Linked DNA regions of Homo sapiens: region 1 is linked to region 2. A link means that fine-mapping ties the variant in region 2 to the expression of a gene that starts in the linked region. Tissue or cell type: fibroblasts. Region 2 holds a variant in brackets; the other region holds the start of a gene. All regions are shown on one strand. Distances are between the middles of the regions.

Region 1 (8,077 bases), 590 kb after region 2:
TCCATGTTGGTCAGGCTGGTCTGGAACTCCCGACGTCAGGGGATCCTCCCGCCTTGGCCTCCCAAAGTGCTGGGATTGCAGGCATGTGCCGCCACGCCCGGCTAATTTTGTATTTGTTTAGTAGAGACGTAGTTTCTCCATGTTGGTCAGGCTGGTCTGGAACTCCCGACGTCAGGGGATCCTCCCGCCTTGGCCTCCCAAAGTGCTGGGATTACAGGCGTGAGTCACCGCGCCCGGCCTATTTATTTATTTATTTATTCATTATTTATTTTTCTGAGACGGGATTTCACCATGTTTGCTAGGCTGGTCTCGAACTCCTGACCTCAGGTGTTCTGCCTGCCTTGGCCTCCCAAAGTGCTGGGATTGCAGGCGTGAGCCACCACTCCAGGCCTATTTATTTATTTGTTATTTTTTATTTTTTTATTTTTTTTTGAGATGGAGTCTCGCTCTGTCACCGAGGCTGGAGTGCAATGGCGTGATCTCGGCTCACTGCAACCTCCATCTTCCGGGTTCAAGCGATTCTCCCTCTTCAGCCTCCGAGTAGCTGGGATTACAGGCACGCACTACCACACTCAGCTAATTTTTTGTATTTTTAGTAGAGACAGTGTTTCGCCATGTTGCCCAGGCTGTTCTCGAACTCCTGAGCTCAGGCAGTCTGCCTGCCTCGGCTTCCCAAAGTGTTAGGATTATAGGCGTGAGCTACTGCACCCAGCCTATTTATTTTTTGAGTAGGCGTCTCACTCTGTCGCCCAGGCTGGAGTTCAGTGGCGCCATCTCGGTTCACTGCAACCTCCACCTCCTGGGTTCCAGCGATTCTCCTGCCTGAGCCTCTGGAGTAGCTGGGATTACAGGCATGTGCCACAATGCCTGGGTAATTTTTGTATTTTTAGTAGAGACAGTGTTTCGCCATGTTGACCAGGCAGGTCTTTTTTTTTTTTTTTTTTTTTGAGACGGAGTCTTGCTCTGTCGCCCAGGCTGGAGTGCAGTGGCACGATCTTGGCTCACTGCAAGCTCCTCCTCCCTGGTTCTCGCCATTCTCCTGCCTCAGCCTCCCTAGTAGCTGGGACTACAGGTGCCCACCACCACGCCCGGCTAATTTTTTTTGTATTCTTAGTAGAGACGGGGTTTTTCACCGTGTTAACCAGGATGGTCTCGATCTCCTGACCTTGTGATCCACCCGCCTCGGCCTCCCAAAGTGCTGGGATTACAGGTGTGAGCCACCGCACCCGGCCGACCAGGCTGGTCTTGAACTCCTGACCTCAGGTGATCTGCCCGCCTTGGCTTCCCAAAGTGCTGGAATTACAGTTGTGATCCACTGTGCCTGGCCTCCTACCCCAATTTAGCCCACAGGCCCCAGCCTAGAGTCTCCCATTTTCTTTTTTTTTTCTTTTCTTTCTTTTTTCTTTTTCTTTCTTTTTTTTTTTTTTTTTTTGAGACGGTGTCTCACTCTGTCACCCAGGCTGGAGTGCAATGGCATGATCTTGGCTCACTGCAACCTCCGCCTCCCGGGTTCAAGCAATTCTCCTGCCTCAGCCTCCTGAGTAGTTGGGAGTACAGGAGCTTGCCACCACGCCTGGCTAGAGTCTCCTATTTTCACATGTGGTTGGTTTCCTCCCCGAGTGCGAGGGTGTCATTGTTCCCATTTCACAGATGGGGAAACAGGCTTGGAAATGAAGCCACTTGACCAAGATAGTCACAGCAGGGTCCAGATTCCTTGCAAATGAGAATGAGGATGTAAGCACTATGAGATCAGGCACTTTGCTGGGCTCAATGCTTTTCAAAAAAAAGTAATTAGGCTGAGCGCGGTGGCTCACGCCTGTAATCCTAGCACTTTGGGACGCTGAGGCAGGTGGATCATGAGGTCAGGAGATCAAGACCATCCTGGCTAACACGGTGAAACCCCGCCTCCACTAAAAATACAAAATAAATTAGCCGGGCGTGGTGGTGGGCACCTGTAGTCCCAGCTACTCGGGAGGCTGAGGCAGGAGAATGGCGTGAACCTGGGAGGCAGAGCTTGCAGTGAGCTGAGATCGTGCCACTGTACTCCAGCCTGGGCGACAGAGCGAGACTCCGTCTCAAAAAAATAATAATAATAATTAATTTAGGCCGGGTGCAGTGGCATGTGCCTGTAGTTCCAGCTACTCAGGAGGCTGAGTCAGGAGAATCGCTTGAACCCGGGAGGCGGAGGTTGCAGTGAGCCGAGATCACGCCACTGCACTCCAGCCTGGCGACAGAGCAAAACACCGCCTCAAAAAAAAAAAAAAAAGAAATTCATTTTCTAAATAGAGACAAGGTCTCGCTATGATGCCCAGGCTGGTGTTGAACTCCTGGTCTCAAGCGATCCTCCTGCCTTGGCCTCCCAAAGTGCTGGGATTACAGGCGTGAGCCATTGCACCCAGCCAGGGCTCACTGCTTTCTTCTCAGTGGCTGCAACAGACAGTGCCTGCACACAGTAGGTGCTCAACAGGTGCATGGTGAATGGCAGTTAAACCGAAAGCTCAGATTCCTTCCCGGTCACAGGCACAAGGCTCCACTCCTGGGTGTCATCTGCTTCAGACTTAGGCAGTAGCTCTGCCCCCACAAGCCGCGATTCTGCCTGGGTGGCACTCTTTGTGCGGGTGGGGGCGCTTCTGCTACAAGTTCCAGGCCCTGGGTGACAGTTCCAGCCCCCCGCTCTCCTCCCCTGCCTACGGATGCATAATCTTGTTCCTCAAAATATACCAAGGAATCATGTCTCTCTCCTGAGGGAGTTGTCCTCAGTCTAGAAGAGAATTCTCACCTGGATCTGAGGTGGAGGTTTGGAACTCTCCATTTCACCCTGCCCTACTGGGACCATCCCCTTTTCTCCCTAGGGGACCTGGACAAACCGTCCCTGGCCCCTTCCAAGCACAGCCATGTTTCCAGACCCCCAGCTCTTTCACGACTCAGGAGTCCTGATCCTAGCTCAGACCTTCTCGGGCACCCAGGAGTCTGGATCCCTAACCCATTCCCTCCAGGGCTTTGGAAATTTGAGTCCCCACCCCTTGCAGGACACAAGCCTCCTCCGTTTAGGACACCAGTGGCTCAGGCCCCCAACCACAGCAGCAAACCCACGGGGGCCCTGGAGTGCAGGCCTCAAGTCCAACTCTCCAAACACTGAGAAGTCCCAACCTTGGTCCTTAGGGGACCTGGGAATTGGGGGGCCCAAGCCCCTCCCTTCAGCTATGGGGGCAGCTGAGCCAGAGGTCAGGCTGTAGTGGGGAGGCCAGAAGGGGCGGGGACAGCCGGGATTGGGAGGGGAGAACAGCAGCGTGGGCGGCTGGCAGAGGCAGGGAAAGACCAGCAGAGAGGAAAGAGAAACTGGGAGAGGGAGGAAGGGAGAAAGTGAGAAGGGAAATCGGAAAGAGAAAAGGGAGGAAACGGCAGAGCCAGAGAGAAAGAGGAAGAGACTGAGTGTGAAGGAGAGAGGACACAGGGGATGACTGAGAGACAGAGAGAGAGAGAGAGAGAGAATGAGACAGAGACTTAAGGAAGAGACCCTGTGAGTCTGACAATAAAAGATTTGGACAGAAACAGAAAGATTGGAGAGAGAGAGAGAGGGAGAGAATGAGTGAGAGAGAGACTGGAAGAGACAGAGATCAGAGGGAGACACAGAAAGTGAGAGTGGGGAGAGAGGTAGTGTAAAAGGAAGAGAGAGAGAGAGAGACCGTAAGAGACAGGAGACAAAGAGACAAAAAGTGTGAGTGAGCAGGTGAGGAGAGAGATTGAGAACTATGAGAGACAGCAGCTAAGAGACAAAGGAGGCGGGAGACTGCCTAGGTGCCGCAGCACCCACACCGTCCTCTTGCCCCCCCGTCACTGGGACCCCAGAGCTGGGTAAGTTCCCTGGCTGGGCTGGGAGGGGCTCTCTGGGTTCACATTCCTGGTGCCGCAGGGCTTGGCTTGGGGAGTTGGCAGGGGTGGTTTGGGGGTGCATGTGGGAGGGCGGGAGACAGGTAGCCTGGGGCAGCCGGAAGGAGGCAGGGAATGGGGAGTCCCTAAGCACAGAGAGGGTCAAATTCCTGGCCTGAGTGCAGTGGGCAGGAATAAAGAAGCCCCTATTCTCTGGCCTGGGCTGCAGACAGCTGCCCCCTCCCGCAGCTGCCAGGGCCGCCTACCTCTCTTGGCACCACTCTTGGTATGTGGTCACGGGCCATGGCCTCCCCCAGCCCCCCAAGTCCCGAAACAACAGGCTCTTTCTCTGCAGCCTCCTCCGACCTCCAAGCCCCTGACCCCATCTCTGTCTCACACCCGTCACTGCAGAGACACAGCCCCTTTCTTTCTCTCCCCCAGCCCTTGATGGAGGGGAGCCGACCTCGCAGCAGCCTGAGCCTGGCCAGCAGCGCCTCCACCATCTCCTCGCTCAGCAGCCTGAGCCCCAAGGTTTGAGCTTCCTGGCGGGGATGGGGAGGAAGGTGGGGCTCTGGGCCGCCCATCCTTCTGTTTCCCCAAGGACTCTGGTTGTTAAGGACAAAGATCCTTAGCAACGGGGTCTGCCAGACATAGTAAGGTCCCAAATTGCCTACACACCGCAGCTAGGAATTCAGAGGCACTCCCAGCTCTGTCCCCACCCTTTGTATTTTCCTAATTCTAAACCAGAGTAACAACCTCCCTTGACCCTGGTTGCTAAGATAAAGCCGCTCCCCAGCCATGAGGCCCCTCGAGTTCTGAGAAGTAGTGGCTGCTCTTGATTAGTGCCAGAACTTGCTGTCCTATCTCTCGCCATCCAATCTACCCACTAATGAAATCCTATAAGGAGAGACCCTTCTCTGACAATAAGACCCAAGGGGCCTCCAGATACTTGCATCCCAAATCGGCATCCCAGCCAAAAGCTTAGGGAGACACTCATTTCTTTTTCCTCCTGCCGTTCCACACATATTGTTTCTCAAGTTCAGAGCCCAGAGATCTGATCTCAGCCTTGGTCAGTACCACCGCTTCCAAGGAAGGGCATATTGTCGGGACCTGGCTAAGGATGCCTGAGATATCTGTGGGCATCAGGAGATGAGGCTCCATCCGGGCAGGATGGAGGGATTTGAGGCTTCCTCTCCTTGTACTTGGTTGCTAAGGGGTGTGACCGCAGGGCACCAGGGCATCCTTTGATTCACTGGAGACTCAGCGTGAGAGTTCCCCCTGATTATGGGGCCCTCCCAGCCCATAGTCCCAGTTCAGATCCCAAAGGACCTACTACAGCTCTGGCTCTGGTGGCCAAGGGCATCTGCTTCTTGGCAGTGGATGCTTGATCCCCAAATTGCTTCCCTACAGCCTCTTCCTTGCCTCTGAACACCTCCCTCTGCCCATCAAAAAAAGAGTCTCGGCCCGGCGCAGTGGCTCACGCCTATAATCCCAGCACTTTAAGAGGCTGAGGCGGGTGGATCACCTGAGGTCAGGAGTTCAAGAGCAGCCTGACTGACATGGCGAAACCGCGTCTCTGCTAAAAATACAAAAATTAGCCAGGCGTGGTGGCACGTGCCTGCAATCTCAGCTACTCAGGAGGCTGAGGCAGGAGAATCACTTGAACCCGAGAGGCAGGGGTTGCAGTGAGCCAAGATGGTGCCAGTGTGCTCCAGCCTGGGGGACAGAGCGAGACTCTGTCTCAAAAGAAAAAGAAAAAAAGAGTCTCTCCCAGCCTGGGCAACAAAGTGAGACCCCCGTCCCCTACAAAAAGTAAAAAAATTAGCTGGGCATGGTGGGACATGCCTGTGGTCCCAGCTACATGGGAGGCTGAGGCTGGAGGATCACCTGAGTCCAGGAGGTAAAGGCTGCAGTGTTTAGGCTACTGCACTCCAAAGAGCCTGTCAAAAAAAAAAGAGTCTCTTAACTCTGCAATAAGAACACCTCCCAATTCTGATCTCCAACTTCAGCCCCCACCTTGACCCTTTTCTTTCTTTCTTTTTTTTTTTTTCTTTGAGACGGAGTCTCACTCTGTCTCCCGGGCTGGAGTGCAGTGGTGCGATCTCGGCTCACTGCAAGCTCCTCCTCCCGGGTTCTCGCCATTCTCCTGCCTCAGCCTCCCGAGTAGCTGGGACTACAGGCGCCCGCCACCACGCCCGGCTAATTTTTTGTATTTTTAGTAGAGACGGGGTTTCACCGTGTTAGCCAGGATGGTCTCGATCTCCTGACCTCGTGATCCACCCGTCTCAGCCTCCGAAAGTGCTGGGATTACAGGTGTGAGCCACTGCGCCCGGCTGGTCCTTGACCCATTTCTCAGGGCAGCCAAGCGAGAGCCTACGGTTGCCTGTGTCCACCCTCACCCCCTCCCAGGACCATCCTAGGCTCTCCCTGTTCACTTCTGTCCCCTTCTCTCCTCAGAAGCCCACCCGGGCAGTAAACAAGATCCACGCCTTTGGGAAGAGAGGCAATGCGCTCAGGAGGGATCCCAACCTTCCCGTGCACATCCGAGGCTGGCTTCATAAGCAGGTGGGGTCAGTAGGAGAAGGAAAAGGACACTGAAGTCTGTGCCCCGGCTGTCCTCTGTCTCTCTCCTTGCAAGTCCCCAAATAGGCTTTCTTTTTCTTGCTATCACTGCCCCTCCCCTTAGTCCGTCATTGTTTGTTTGTTTGTTTATTTATTTATTTTTAAGACAGAGTCTCTTTCTGTCGCCCAGGCTGGAGGGCAGTGGTATGATCTCGGCTCAATGCAACCTCTGGCCTCCAGTTCAAGCAATTCTCGTGCCTCAGCCTCCCGAGTAGCTGGGCTTACAGGCATGCACCATCATGCCTAGCTAATATTTGTATTTTTAGTAGAGATGGGGTTTTATCATGTTGGCCAGGGCGGTCTGAAACTCCCGACCTCAAGTGATCCACCCGCCTCGGCTCCCTAAAATGCTGGGATTACAGGCGTGAGCCACCGTGCCTGGCCCATTCATTCATTCTTTCTTGACTACTTCTTGAACACTTACAGTGTTCCCAATCCCAGGGCACACACCATGCAAATAACACAAAAGTATTTATATTACATTCCAGATTGGGTGGAGCATGGGTGGATAATAAATTAGTAAATAAATAAATGGACTTGGTCATTTCAGATCGCAGGATGGGCTATGAAGAAGTAACATAGGGTCCAGGTTCAGTGGTGTAACCCCAGCATTTTGGGAGGCCAAGACGGGAAGATCGCTTGAGCTTAGGAATTCTAGACCAGCCTGGGCAACATGAAGAAACCTCATCTCAACAACAAATACACACACACACAAAACCTAGCTGAGCGTGGTGGTGTGCGCCTATAGTCCCAGCTACTCGGGAGGCTAAGGCAGGAGGATTGCTGAAGCCCAGGAGGCTGAGGCTGCAGTGAACTGTGTTCATGTCACTGCACACCAGCCTGGGTGACAGAGTGAGACCCTGTCTCAAAAACAAAAACAAAAAAACGGAATATGATGTGCTTGAACGTGGCTGAGAGAGGAGAACTTCAATTTGACATTTGGTCAGGGAAAATTATCTCTGAGGTGACATTTGAGCTGGCTGAGCATAGTGGGTCATGCCGGTAATTCAAACGCTTTGGGAGGCTGAGGCGGGCGGATCACCTGAGGTCAGGAGTTCAAGACCAGCCTGGTCAACATGGCGAAACCCTGGCTCTACTAAAAAATACAAAAATTAGCCGGGCCAGCTTGGGGGTGCCTGTAATCCCAACTACTTGGGAGGCTGAGACAAGGAAAATTTGAATCTGGGAGGTGGAGGTTGCAGTGAGCCGAGGTTGCGCCATTGCACTCCAGCCTGGATGATGGAGTGAGACTCCATGTCAAAAAAAAAAAAAAGACCTGGAGGCAGATCGCATCCAAAAGGAAAAGGTCTGCAGCAGGCAAAACCTTGGTGTCAAGTGAGGCCAGGGGAAGAAGCCAGGAGGAGCAGCAGAGCAGTGGTTCTCAAAGTGTGGTCCCAGACCAGCAGCATCAGCGTCATCTGGGGACTTGCTAGAAAGGCAAATGATGAGGTACCATCATAGATTTGCCAAATCAGGAACTCTGGGGATGGGGCCCCAGAATCTGTGTTTTAACACACCTTCCTGGTGATTCTTATGCACCTTCAAACTCAAAACTCTCTGCAAAGCAGTACATGGGCTGGGCACG
Region 2 (8,065 bases):
GGGGTTCCCCGCCTCCCGGGGTCCACACCTCAGCTGCATCACCTGGTCAGGTGCTGGGCCCGGACGACGCCGGGGTGCGCACTCCAGCCCTTAAATGCCATCCTGGCTGCCTCCACGGCTGCAGCCACATCCTCGGCCTGTGCCTGCAGGCAACTGGCCAAGTTCTCTCCTGGGGAGAAAAGTGGGGGGACTCAGATGGGAGGAGTAGCCCATGTCATATCTGGAGGGGGCTGAGATTTTCGGAGCCTGGATCAGCCCAAGAGTGTAAAGCTGGTCCCCATTCTCTGCTGGGTCACGGCTATGATCACCTCCAGGGCAAGGAAGCTATTTTAACAGACAGCAGTCTCACAAAGCCTCCACAGAGACCCGGAACCATAATTAGGGTGACTGGTTTCAGAAGGAACCAGACATCGCAGCCCATCTCCCACCACCAGCTGTTTCCTGCCCTCAGGGCCCTAGGCAAGGGGAATGGGTGTTGGTGGGTAGGGCTAGAGGGCACAGATACCTCCCTTCCACTAATGACTGGGGGACATCTCGTACCTGTGATGGGATCCTGGCAAGGCACTGAATTTCTGTGTTCAGGCTTTAACCACTTCCCATTCACATAGTGGCCCAAGCACCGGTCCTGGGTGTCCAGCCAGGCCTGGGGGAGGTAGAGACAGTTTGGAAAGGGGTTCGGGAGGAGCTGGGGCAGTTCAACCCCTACCCAGAATCCTCTAGGAGGGGACGTCTGTCTCCCTCTGCCCCATCAGCTAATTCTTTTCCTCCTATTGCTTTAAAAAAAAAGTTTGTGGTAAAATAGAGCATTTCAAAGTGTATAGTTCAGCAGTTTAGTGGCATTCTGTGCATTTACAGTGTTGTGTAACCATCACCACTCTAGTTCTAGAACATTTTTTCATTTTTTTTTTTTGAGACTGAGTCTTGCTCTGTCACCCAGGCTGGAGTGCAGTGGCATGATCTCAGCTCACTGCAAGCTCCGCCTCCTGGGTTCACGCTATTCTCCCGCCTCAATCTCCTGAGTAGCTGGGACTACAGGCGCCCGCCACCACATGCGGCTAGTTTTGTTTTTGTATTTTTAGTAGAGACGGGGTTTCACCATGTTGGTCAGGCTGGTCTTGAACTCCTGACCTCAAGTGATCTGCACGCCTTGGCCTCCCAAAGTGCTGGGATTATGGATGTGTCAACATCTTTAATTCATTCAATTAGGGTCTCAACTGAGTCCTTGGGCTGGTGCCACAACAGTGGCACCTATTTGGAGTCCACTTTGGGAGGCCGAGGTGGTCTGAGCCTAGGCATTCAAGACCAGCCTGGGCAACATGGTGAAAGCTCATCTCTACAAAAAATACAAAAAGTTAGCCGGGTGTGGTGGTGAGTGCCTGTAGTCCCAGCTACCTGGGAGTCTGAGGTGGGAGGATCACTTGAGCCCAGGAGGTAGAGGCTGTAGTAAGCCAAGATCACGCCACTGCACTCCAGCCTGAGTAACAGAGCAAGGCTCTGTCTCAAAGAAAAAAAATTTTTTTACCACATCTCACTCACCACATCTCCTCCATATTTCTTTCTTTCTTTTTTTTTTTTTTGTTTGAGACAGAGTCTTGCTCTGTCACCCAGGCTGGAGTGCAGTGGCGCGATCTCTGCTCACTGCAAGGTCCGCCTCCTGGATTCACGCCATTCTCCTGCCTCAGGCTCCCGAGTAGCTGGGACTACATGCGCCTGCCACCACGCCTGGCTAATTTTTTTGTATTTTTAGTAGAGATGGGGTTTCACTGTGTTAGCCAGGATGGTCTTGATCTCCTGACCTCGTGATCCGCCCGCCTCGGCCTCCCAAAGTGCTGAGATTACAGGCGTGAGCCACTGCGCCCGGACTTCTCCTCCATATTTCTTTCTCATCCTGGTCACGTCTTCCCTGATGCTAAATCCAAAGCACACTGCTCACTTGCTCCTTCTACAGACTCCCCTAGCATCTCTGATGTCACATATTCCTGATTTTTCTCTTACTGGCCCTTCTTTCTTTTTTTTTTTTGAGATGGAGTCTTGCTCTTGTCTCCCAGGCTGGAGTGCAATGGTGCGATCTCAGCTCACTGCAACCTCCGCCTCCTGGGTTCACGTGATTCTCCTACCTCAGCCTCCCAAGTAGCTGGGATTACAGGCGGCCGCCACCATGCCCAGCTAATTTATATATTTCTAGTAGAGATGGGTTTTTACCATGTTGGCCAGGCTGGTCTCGAACTCCTGGCCTCAGGTGATCCACTCGCCTCGGCCTCCCAAAGTGCTGGGATTACAAGCATGAGCCACTGTGCCTGGCTTCTCCTTTCTCTTTAAAGCAAAAAAGTTACTTAGAAGTTCCAAACTCAAACGCCCACAGGGAGAGAGACATCTGTGAGAAAGTCAGGGATATTTGAACATGAACTGGGCATCAGATGACATTAAAGAATGATTGTTGGCCGGGCATGGTAGCTCACATCTGTAATCCCTGCACTTTCCCACGCTGAGACGGGAGGATTGCTTGAGCTGAGGAGTTTGAGACTAGTCTGGACCTACACAGCAAGACCCCATCTCTACAAAAATAAAAGTAAAAAATTTGCCAGTCATGATGATGCACACTTGTAGTCTCAGCTAGTCAGGAGGCTGGGGTGGGAGGATTGCTTGGGTCCAGGAGTTTCAGGCTGCAGTGAGCTATGAACGCTACTGAATGCTAGCCTGGGCGACAGAGTAAGATCCTGTCTCAAACAAACAAACAAAAAACAAAAAGAATGACTTAATGTTAAGTGTGGTAACAGACCATGGTAGTTTTGTAACAAAATGAGCCCTTATCTGTTAGAAGAAAGGATTCAAATATTTATAGGAAAATACTGTGACATCCAGGATTTGTTTAAATTACTCCAAAGAAAATACAGAAGGAAACAGCGCTGGGATAAATGTTGATGATGGTTGAGGCACAGTGATGGGTAAACAGGAGTTCAAAATAAATGCTAATTATTCTGTGCAAGTTGGAAAGCTTCCCCCCAAAAGAAAAACAAAATTCCAAAAGAATGTCCAGAGGGTTCCAGGAGGCCTGAGAAGAGGGCCTGGATGAGAAGAGGAGCTTAACGATTCATGGAAAAGACAGGAGCTATTGGTCCCAGATGACTTTTGTCAGGGAAGTTGAGCCAAATGTTGACACATTTTGGAATTTTATTTTCAAGAGGACCTCCCGGATGTTTACATGGAATCAATTGTCCAGCATTTCACATAAAAAAAAAATAAAGTTCACGCCAAAGAAAACATGTTTGTTGGTTGAGTCTGGCCCAGAGACTGTACGGTTGAGAACTTTGCTGGTGTAGGCAAGACCACGGGTCTGAAATGCAAGGACTCAAGTCCAAGTCTCAACTTCACTTTTTATGTTTTATTTTTATATTAATAGAGATAGGGCCTCACCATGTTGCCCAGGCTGGTCTCAAACTCCTAGGTGCGAGTGATCCTCCTGCCTCGGTCTCCCAAACTGCTGGGATTACAGGTGTGAGCCACTTGCCTGGCCTCAACTTCTTTTTTTTTCAGGGGGGACAGGGTCTTATTCTGTCACCCAGGCTGGAGTTCAGTGGTATGATCACTGCACCTCCCAGGCTCAGGTGATCCTCCCACCTCAGCCTCCCGGGTAGCTGGGACTACAGGTGTGTGCTGCCATCCTCGGCTAATCTTTTGTTTTCTGTTTCCTTTTTTTTTTTTTTTTTTTTTTGAGATGGAGTTTTGCTCTTGTTGCCCAGGCTGGAGTGCAGTGGCGTGGTCTCGGCTCACTGCAATCTCCACCTCCTGGGTTCAAGCGATTCTCCTGCCCCAGCCTCCCAAGTAGCTGGGATTACAGGTGCCTGCCACCACGCCCAGCTAATTTTTTGTATTTTTAGTAGAGATGGGTTTCACCATCTTGGCCAGGCTGGTCTCGATCTCCTGACCTCATGATCCGCCCGCCTCGGCCTCCCAAAGCGCTGGGATTACAGGTGTGAACCACTGCGCCCAGCCATTTTTGTATTTTTTTTGGAGACAGCGTCTTGCTCCGTTGCCCAGGCTGGAGTGCAGTGGTGCAATCTCAGCTTACTGCAACCTCTGCCTCCTGGATTCAAGCAATTCTCCCACCTCAGCCTCCCAAGTAGCTAGGATTACAGGCAAACACCACCACGCTCAGGTAATTTTTGTATTTTAGTAGAGATGGGGTTTCACCATGTTGGCCAGGCTGGTCTCGAACTCCTGACCTCAGGTGATCCGCCCACCTAGGACTCCCAAAGTGCTGGGATTACAAGTCTGAGCCACCACGCCTGGCCCAATGTTTTGTATTTTAGTAGAGACGAGGTTTCACTATGTTGCCCAGGCTGGTCTCGAATTCCTGAGCTCAGGCGATCTGCCCGTCTTGGCCTCCCCAAGTTCTAGGCTGTGCCAGGGTTCTGATCCAGTTCCTTCCACTTGGATCATTGCTCTGGCCTCCTGCCCTCCCCCTCAAAGAAGCCTAAGCTCCTTTCGCCTGGGTGCTGGGGGACCCTGGGGGATCATGAGAGCCCCGTGAAGGAATTCTGAGAGTGCCTGGGGAAACGACAGAAAGTTTGAGGTGCCCTACTCATTTGCAGGAACCCCACGAGGGTTCTGGGGGCCTCTGAGGGGTCATGGGAGTCCTAGGGAGGTTCTGAGGACCCCCAGGGGATCATGGGACCCTCACGAGGACTTCAGGGGTTCCTGAACAATCATGGGAACCCTATGGGACATTCTGAGAGCTAGAGAGATCATAGGAGCCCCGTGAGGGTATTGTGAGGGGCC[A/G]TAAGTAATTACAGGAAGTCCTGATGTGGCTGGGTGCAGTAGCTCACGCCTGTAATCCCAGCACTTTGGGAAGTCGAGGTGGGTGGATCACTTGAGGCCAGGAGTTCGAGACCAGCCTGGCCAACATGCTGAAACCTTGTCTCTAGAAAAAGTACAAATATTAGCTGAGAGTGGTGGCGCGCGTCTCTGGTCCCAGTTACTTGGGGGGCTGAGGTGAGAGGATGGCTTGAGCCCAGGAGGTTGAGGCTGCAGTGGTGTGATAGCGCCAGTGCACTTCAGTTTGGGCGACAGAGTGAGACCCTGGCTCAAAAAAAAAAACAAAAAAAAAACCCAACCCAAACCGGAAGTCCTGATGTATTCTAGGCTCCTGAGAGTTCCGATGAGGTCACATGAACCCCACGAGTATTGAGGGGTCCTATGGGATCACGGGGGCTCCATGGAAGTTCTGAAGGTCTCTGGGTAATCAAAGGGATGAAGGGAGTCCCTCAGGAGGTCTGGGGTGCTCTGGAGGCCCATGGAAGCCATAGGATGTTTTGAAGAGTCGTGGAAAGACAATGGGGGTTGTGGGTCACTGGAGCCTCACAGGAATCCTAAGGGGTCTGGTGGGTGGCGTCAGGTTCTGAGGGGACCCTGAGGAATCACGAGAGCGTCTAGAGGAGTTCAGGAAAACCGCGGAAACACTACGAGGAGTTCAGGATCAAGGGGCAAGAGAACCAGTGGGGAAGACCGGAACAGACTAAAAGGCTGCCACCGCCAAGGCTCAAGGGAGCGTCCTACAGGGCGCGATCCTATTGGGCGGCGGGAATCACGGGGACTAAGAGAGGCGGAGCGGCTGAGCTACCGCAGTGGATGACGGGACTCCCCGCGAAAAACCGGGCGCCCAGGCCTGGGGAACGCAGCGAGCAGCGCCGGCCGGGCAGACTCTCACCAGTGCGCATGCGTGGCTCTCCGGCACCGGTCCGTACTCCAGCGAGGTGAAGATCTCGCGGGCGCGGGGCCCTGCACGCGTCGCAGCCATCGCCTACCCCGAACGCTTTCCGCGAAGACTGCGGGGCGCTCTGTGTTAAGGGGAACCTTGAGGTCCGAAGAGCGACACCTCCGGTTCCAGCCCAAAGGGGCGGGGCTAATGGGAATGGGGTGGGGCTACAAGATACAGAGAGCAGCCACGCCCACACTTTTTCCTTAGGACCCGATGGCCCCGCCTACGTCCCCCACGGGGAAGCGTATTTAGGAGCATGCGCACTGCTTAAAACGGGGAGGAAGGGGAGACGGCGATGTGGGTACTTTGCGAATAGTTAGGAGGGCTCCGGATTTATGAGGATCGGCGTGGCCGGGCACGATGGCTCTTGGCTGTAATCCCAGCACTTCGGGAGGCCGAGGCGGGCGGATCACCTAAGGTCGGGAGTTCGAGACCAGCCTGACCAATTTGGTGAAACCCCGTCTCTACTAAAAATACAAGCATTAGCCGAGCTGTGGTGGTGCGCGCCTGTAATCTCAGCTACTCAAGAGGCTGAGGCGGGAGAATCACTTGAACCCAGAAGGTGTACGTTTCAGTGAGCCGAGATCGCGCCACTGCACTCCAGCCTGGGTGGCAAAGGGAGACTGTGTCTAAAAAAAAAATAGTAATAAAAAAAAAGGGTCGTCCTATTGATGCGTCTTCCCAGTGCCTTGTTTTATAGTAGCAGGAAGTGCAGGTTTTGTTTTACCTTTTATTTTCTTGAGACAGGGTCTCCCTCTGTCGCCCAGGGCTGGAGTGCAGTGGTCCGATCACGGCTTACTGTCGCCTCGACTTTTCAGGTTTAAACATTACTCCTGCGTCAGCCTGCACAGTAGCTGGGACTACAGGCAGGTGCCATCAAGCCTGGCTAATTTTTTTTTTTTTTTTTTTTTTGGTAGAGACAGGATCTTGCTATGTTGCTCAGGCTGGTCTCGAACTCCTGGGCTCAAGCGATCCTCCTACCTCGGCCTCCCAGCCTCAAAGTGCAGCTTTTCTAATTATATTGACTAGAGGTCTAGATCTAGATCTAGACCTGGCGGGTCTAGATCTGGACGTATTAGGATCTAGAGCTGGCAGGAAGTGATAATTCAAAGATAAAAAGGGTACCTTTTAGGATGGACATTGAGATTAAGGTTTGGAAAATGCAACCTTCACTGCAAAGTAAGGGGGCCAGTTTTGGTTGTGGAAAGAGTGGAAGTCTGGCGCTTTTTTTTTTTTTTTAAGAGATGGGGTGTGGGACGTTATCTCATTGTATTGCCCAAGCTGGTTTCGAACTCCTGGCCTCAAGCGATCCTCTTGCCCTGGCCTTCCAAAGTGCTGGGACTACCGGTAGGAGCCACAGCGCCCAGCCGGAAGTGTGGCTTTCATAGATACAGGAAGTGTGGCACTCAGGGATCCGCCTTGGGGTTTATTTTTGATTGATGCGAGGGGCGTGGCTTGTCGATAACGCGATACCAGCTTGTGAATGAACACTGGGGTACTCGGAAGTGTGGCATACTCCAGTCCTGTGTTTACCGATAGACCGGAAGTGTGGCTTCGTTTACAGTTCGGCACGTAGGACGGAGGGTAGTGCGTCTAGAGACACATATTCCCCACGGATTTGACGATGGTGTTCGGTCTTGAATGGAAATGTAGTCTTAGGCCAGTCTTAGGTTTTTGAACAGGATAGTAGGTATCCGGAGTCGATTGAGGGCCAGAGCAGGCACTGGGGTTCGGATCCTGGGCAAAGTTTCCCACGTTGAGGGTCTCGAGGACGCCTAGATCTCTTTCCCAGGGCCATGGCGAACCCGAAGCTGCTGGGAATGGGGCTAAGCGAGGCGGAGGCGATCGGTGCTGATTCGGCGCGATTTGAGGAGCTGCTGCTGCAGGTGCAGTGACCGGACCCCTGGATCCTTGAGTATTCGGGGATTTTGGCGGGGTGCTCAAAGATGGGACTGCAGTTCCCAGAATGCACTAAGGCGGGAACCAGGCCTCGGGGAATTGAGGTTAATGGGCTTCAAGTTTGCTAAGAAATGGGAGTGGGGGGCCGGGCGCGGTGGCTCACACCTGTAATCCCACCACTTTGGGAGGCCGAGGCGGGCGGATCACGAGGTCAGGAGATCGAGACCATCCTGGCTAACACGGTGAAACCCCGTCTCTACTAAAAATACAAAAAATTAGCCGGGCGTGGTGGCGGGCACCTGTAGTCCTAGCTACTGGAGAGGCTGAGGCAGGAGAATGGCGTGAACCCGGGAGGCGAAGCTTGCAATGAGCCGAGACCTCGGCACTGCACTCCAGCCTGGGCGACAG

Evidence for each region. PIP is the estimated chance that this variant, and not a neighbour inherited with it, causes the effect.
Region 1: it holds the start of PLEKHA4, and the variant in region 2 is fine-mapped to the expression of PLEKHA4 in fibroblasts (GTEx, PIP 0.98).

What each region holds. Positions count from the first base shown.
Region 1 is chr19:48,863,861-48,871,937 of GRCh38, reverse strand. PLEKHA4 (pleckstrin homology domain containing A4) reads left to right here and starts at 3,321. Exons shown (of 20, transcript NM_020904.3): 1 at 3,321-3,855; 2 at 4,312-4,401; 3 at 6,328-6,435. The coding sequence starts at 4,318. RefSeq lists an enhancer at 1-572.
Region 2 is chr19:49,451,064-49,459,128 of GRCh38, reverse strand. PIH1D1 (PIH1 domain containing 1) reads left to right here and starts at 7,315. Exons shown (of 9, transcript NM_017916.3): 1 at 7,315-7,644. The coding sequence starts at 7,555. ALDH16A1 (aldehyde dehydrogenase 16 family member A1) reads right to left here and starts at 5,904. Exons shown (of 17, transcript NM_153329.4): 1 at 5,708-5,904; 2 at 541-643; 3 at 43-169. The coding sequence starts at 5,797. RefSeq lists enhancers at 4,352-5,311, 7,045-7,094, 7,105-7,384, 7,009-7,687. The variant A/G (reference allele first, on the strand shown) is at 4,780.